2 separate regions of the Homo sapiens genome follow, and region 1 is linked to region 2. Evidence: fine-mapped expression QTL. Tissue or cell type: whole blood. Region 2 holds a variant in brackets; the other region holds the start of a gene. All regions are shown on one strand. Distances are between the middles of the regions.

Evidence for each region. PIP is the estimated chance that this variant, and not a neighbour inherited with it, causes the effect.
Region 1: DCAF4 starts here. The variant in region 2 is fine-mapped to the expression of DCAF4 in whole blood (TOPMed, PIP above 0.99).

Annotation. Positions count from the first base shown.
Region 1 is chr14:72,924,974-72,927,588 of GRCh38, reverse strand. DCAF4 (DDB1 and CUL4 associated factor 4) reads right to left here and starts at 1,125. Exons shown (of 14, transcript NM_015604.4): 1 at 1,046-1,125. RefSeq lists enhancers at 1-415, 1,087-1,356, 1,647-1,746, 2,147-2,615 and a silencer at 857-916.
Region 2 is chr14:73,085,969-73,088,724 of GRCh38, reverse strand. It overlaps RBM25 (RNA binding motif protein 25), which reads right to left. Exons shown (of 19, transcript NM_021239.3): 6 at 564-724. Among named protein-coding and RNA genes, the nearest start is that of RBM25-AS1, 28 kb to the right of the region's middle. The variant T/G (reference allele first, on the strand shown) is at 1,488.

The sequences.
Region 1 (2,615 bases), 160 kb after region 2:
ACGAGGTCAGGAGATCGAGACCATCCTGGCTAACACGGTGAAACCCCGTCTCTACTAAAAATACAAAAAATTAGCCGGGCGAGGTGGTGGTCGCCTGTAGCCCCAGCTACGCGGGAAGCTGAGGCAGGAGAATGGCGTGAACCCCGGGGGCGGAGGCTGCAGTGAGTCGAGATCGTGCCACTGCACTCCAGCCTGGGCGACAGCGAGACTCCGCCTCAAAAAAAAAAAAAAAAAAAAAAAAAAAAGAACACCACCGCGACTCTAATTTCCATCGTTATTTAAAATCAGAGTTTGGGACTTTGGAATTGTTTCCTCTAGGAAGCCGTCCCCTCAGTTTTCTTTGCTTCTGGCTGCGCTGCTGGAGTCACAAGACAATGCCTGTAGAACACCATGGTGAAAGGCGTCATGGTTTCTGAAGCCCCCGGGGAGCCCACGAGGCGTGGCTTTCTCGCTAACTCACAACTCAGAGTGGAGGCGAGGGCCAAACCCAGGCCCCATCACTTGCTAGTTGTGCGCTACCCCGACGGACAACCAAACTGCACCCCTTTCTGCGTCTGACAAGGACATCATAGCGCTGGCAAATGTTAGCGCCTGTGAAGCCGGCAGCACAGAGCCGGCCACTTCGTAAGCTTCAACCACACCTAACCTGTTATGCTGACCTGAACATTCACAGGGGACACCGCCCCAAGGCCCGCAGCCCAGCCCCCGCCAGGTGTCGGGTGGGGCCTTCAGCAGCAGGTCTCAGAGAAGCGCTTAGAGAAACGCCCTCAGCGGCGACACTCGGGGTGCCCTCCCTGCGTGTTTACGGTTGCAGCACTGATCCGGCCGGAGGGCCCCACGCGCCCCAGAACGGGCGGAGCGCGCCGGCCCAGCTGCCACCTAGGCCCGGTGGCGCCGGCGTTCCACGTGCTCACTCCTCCCCGCCCCTCCCCGCCCCTTTCCCTGGCCTTCCTCGCCGCGCCTGTCTCCCACCCCGAGCTCTGCAGCGGGAGCGCGGCAGCCCTCGAATCGATGCCAGTAGGCACCCCAGGCAGCACAGTCTTACCTGTTCAGCGTGTCCCTTCCGGATTCCCCTCCGGCTCAGCTCTGCAGGAGTTGGAGCGAAGCGTGCAAGGACCCGGAAAGACCAAGGTGTAGCGTCAGCCAGTTAGGTGGATGCGTTTTGGTGTTGTAGCAGCCGATAGGGCTATAGCGGCCGTTCTTTCCTTCTCACTGGACGCGGCTTCTGTCTGTCGACGTCAATAGGGACGATCTCATGAAGAAGGCGGGGAGTGGGGCTTCGGCTCCTCCCAGGCCTGGCCTGTCTGGGGCGGATGCACGTGGAGGCTGGTCATGGAGCGCTTGGGGGTGGGGCCAGGCGCACGCGGGGGCGGGGCCGGGGGCTGCTCCCGGAGCAGCGGAACTGTCTGGAGACCCTTTCGTGAGAGACCGTGTCTTCCTCCCTCCGCAGGGTGATGCGGCCCTGGAGAAGTCCTCTCGCTGTAGTGGAAAGAGCGAAGGAGTCTGTGAGGCGAGGGACAGAAGTAACGTGATGTTACGACTGGCGGCGAAGTCTTCGGCAGTGGCCTCAGGCGGCCGAGGCCGCTGCCCTGGGTCTGCGTTCAGGGTGTAGCGTAGCGAGCCCTGACCGTGAAACCGGGGGGCCTCCGTGTTGGCTCCAGTACTGCTGCTTGCTGTGGGACCTAGGGCGAGTCTCTTCCCTTCTCTGTGCCTTGATTTCTTCTGTTGAGAGAAGGAATCGGATCTATCATTCTCATGTCCTCTCCAGCTTAGAGTTTGTTCAGACCACCAATATTTCTAGAATGACCTATGTGTGCTGTGCCTGTCCCAGGTATCAGCTGACGGTTATGAGATCTTATGAAAGGAAAACGGAAGCCTCTGATGGGCTTGTGTCCCGAAGAGACAGTTTGTGAGGACAGCTGGATTCACAGAGGCTAGGCTTGTTGGGGTCCAGCAGTAGGCCTGGTGTGTCATGCGGCTCCGTAACACAGGCCCCTGCCCGCGGCTTGGACCCGTTAGAAAGCAGGCGGTGGGGTTCACCCATTGCACGCCGTGCGAAGGCATTTCAGCTCTTAACCAGGAAGCTAGGATTTCAGGCTAAACTCCTGGCTCTCAGGAGTTTATAGATAAATGCAGTATGTGGAGCGGGGCCGGGTGATGAGGGAAATGAGAGAAGTGGGCATAGTCAGAATAAAGAACCGCTTCATGAAGCTTGAGCGGCCTTGAAGAGAAGGCAGAGAAAAATTCTAGCTGAACAAACAACGTGACTGGAGGCCGGTTCAAGCCGGCTGGATGGGAGGGGAGTCTTGGAAGGAAAACTCAGCAGGGTGGGTTGGGGCTTGGTGACGCAGCAATTGCCAGGGAAAGAGTAGTCAGGCCGGGTGCAGTGGCTCACGCCTGAAATCCCAGCACATTGGGAGGTTGAGGCGGGTGGATCACTTGAGGCTAGGAGTTCCAGACCAGCCTGGCCAACATGGCGAAACCCCCAACTCTACTAAAAATACAAAAAATTAGCCGGGCGTGGTGGCGGGCGCCTGTAATCCCAGCTACTCAGGAGGCTGAGGCAGGAGAATTGCTTGAACCCGGGAGGCGGGGGTTGCAGTGAGCCGAGATAG
Region 2 (2,756 bases):
AAGAAGAGAAATGAAGGAAATATATACTCAAGTTTTAGCTATGTTTCACTTTGCTGAGGAGGTAATAATGTATACATTAAAATACAATATACAACAATGTCCTTTATTTTAGCTTCACTTAGTAGAGCTTGGATAAAGCCCCCAACCTAAGGCAAGTAATCAGACTTTCATTCATTTTAGAGTCGGTGTACTTCTAAAAGAGAGGGAAACTAATAAAAATTGTGTAGGTTGAAATATATTTTGTACTTACTTACAAAGCTGCCTTAATGAATTAGCTCTGTTTGGAATAGTCTGTACCAGTGCTTTCTCTGGCAAGTTAACCTTGTCCAGCCTCCCTTACTACTTTCATCCCAACCTGGAACAAGCAAACCAACAGTCATCCACCCACTATGGGCAGATAAGACTTAAAATAACTACAAACTATAAAATACCCTCCTACATTAAGCCACAAGCACATACATGATGATCTTTTGAAGCCCCATATTAGATTCATTTATAATGAGAAGCACTACACTGAAATAGCACAGTCTGGCCTAGAAAAGATAACACGACAGAAAACATACCCCATTAGAAGCTTTCTTCTTTGCTTTCCATTCATCCAGCTGTGCCTTTGTCTTTGCATCAACTTTAACGAGTAGCTTTTTCTCTCCAATTTGCAGGTCATGTAATAATCTGAGTGCACGGAGGGTAGATTCTGGCTCCTTGTACTCACAGAATCCGAAGGCTAGCAATGGATGAAAACAATTAGTGAAATACCAATTCACTTACAAAAGAAAAAAAATTATGGAAAAGTAGAATCACTAGAGTCCAAATGTTTTAATACAAAGACCACTCAATTCATAATTCCACCCCTGTCCACCAATTCCCTTTGATAACCATTTCACTTTTAGTATCCTCAAACAACCAAAGGGGAAAAAAAGGGAAAAACAGAGAGGAAGAAAAATTCAAATCAGACAAACTGCTACTCATTAGAAGCTCTAATAAAATATTTAGCAGAGTCAATGAAATTCATGATTAAAAGGAGTCAATTGGCCGGGCGCGGTGGCTCATGCCTGTAATCCCAGCACTTTGGGAGGCCGAGGCGGGTGGATCACGAGGTCAGGAGATCGAGACCATTCTGGCCAACACAGTGAAACCCCGTCTCTACTAAAAATACAAAAAATTAGCCGGGCGCGGTGGCGGGCGCCTGTAGTCCCAGCTACTTGGGAGGCTGAGGCAGGAGTATGGCGTGAACCCAGGAGGCGGAGGTTGCAGTGAGCCGAGATAGCGCCACTGCAGTCCGGCCTGGGCGAAAGAGCGAGACTCCGTCTCAAAAAAAAAAAAAAAAAGAAAGGAGTCAATTATTTCATAAATTCACCCTATCTAGACTTCCAAACAGCCACAAGAAAGAACAGACTGCAGGAACACAAACAATGCACTTTTCAATTCTGAGATGTTAAATTACAGAATTTGTATCCTAGTTACCAGTCTATTTTACTTACATCTAT[T/G]TCCTTTTATAACTAGTCAATCTCACTATTAAGATGACTTTAACAGAAATATTAAAACAAAATTAAATCTAAGAAGAGCAACCAACAAATTGAAAATAAAATCAAATAAATCTAAATATGTATATAATGACAGGAAACAGAAAAAAACTACTGATATTAAAATAGTAAATTTGACATTTCAGTGTGATATACCATAAAGACAAACAGATATGCCCCTCAAAAAAGTACCTTTAGGCCGGGCGCAGTGGCTCATGCCTGTAATCCCAGCACTCTGGGAGGCAGAGGCGGGCAGATCACCTGAGATCAGGAGTTCCAGACCAGCCTGGCCAACATGGTGAAACCCTCTCTCTACTAAAAATACAAAAACTAGCTGGGTGTGGTGGCACATGCCTGTAGTCCCAGCTACTAGGGAGGCTAAGGAAGGAGAATTGCTTGAACCCGGGAGGCAGAAGTTGCAGTAAGCTGAGATTGCCCCACTGCACTCCAGCCTGGGCAACAGACAGAGACCCTGTCTCAAAAAAAAAGAAAAGTAATTTTAAATGATCATATTGCTGATGATAGTGTCAATGTTGTTAGTGTGAAACTGTTATATGTGCAATGCAAGATAAAGCAACTCAGTAATTAATAGTTTATCATCCCCAATGGCCTTGAAACTCGGGGACCTCAGTGTGGGGAAAAAGGAGATACAAATATATGACAAAACAGGCTAAATAAAAACCTTTTAGTCCTGAATCTGAATTAGTATACACTGGAAAAACCTAAAAGCAAACACCAAACCACTGTTTTGTTTTTTTTTTTTTTTAGACGGAGTCTCGCGCTGTCACCAGGCTGGAGTGTAGTGGTGCAATCTCGGCTCACTGCAAACTCTGCCTCCCGGGTTGAAGCGATTCTCCTGCCTCAGCCTCCTGAGTAGCTCAGACTAAAGGAGCGCACCACCACACTCAGCTAATTTCTGTATTTTTAGTAGAGACAGGGTTTCACCATGTTGGCCAGGATGGTCTTGATCTCTTGACCCGCCTGCCTCAGCCTCCCAAAGTGCTGGGATTACAAGCTCGAGCCACCACACCCATCCCAAACCACTGTTAATATGAGTGCACCTAGTGTCCAGATCGTGATCTTCAAAACAATTTCCCCTGGAGAAATGGCTGATTCTAAGTCTGGGGCCGAAAACCTATTATACTAGATGACCTTAGAACAAATTGTCATACCAGATAACAAAGCAGCTGTCAAAGGTGTTCAGGGTCATGTCAAAACCACTGGAGATGTAAA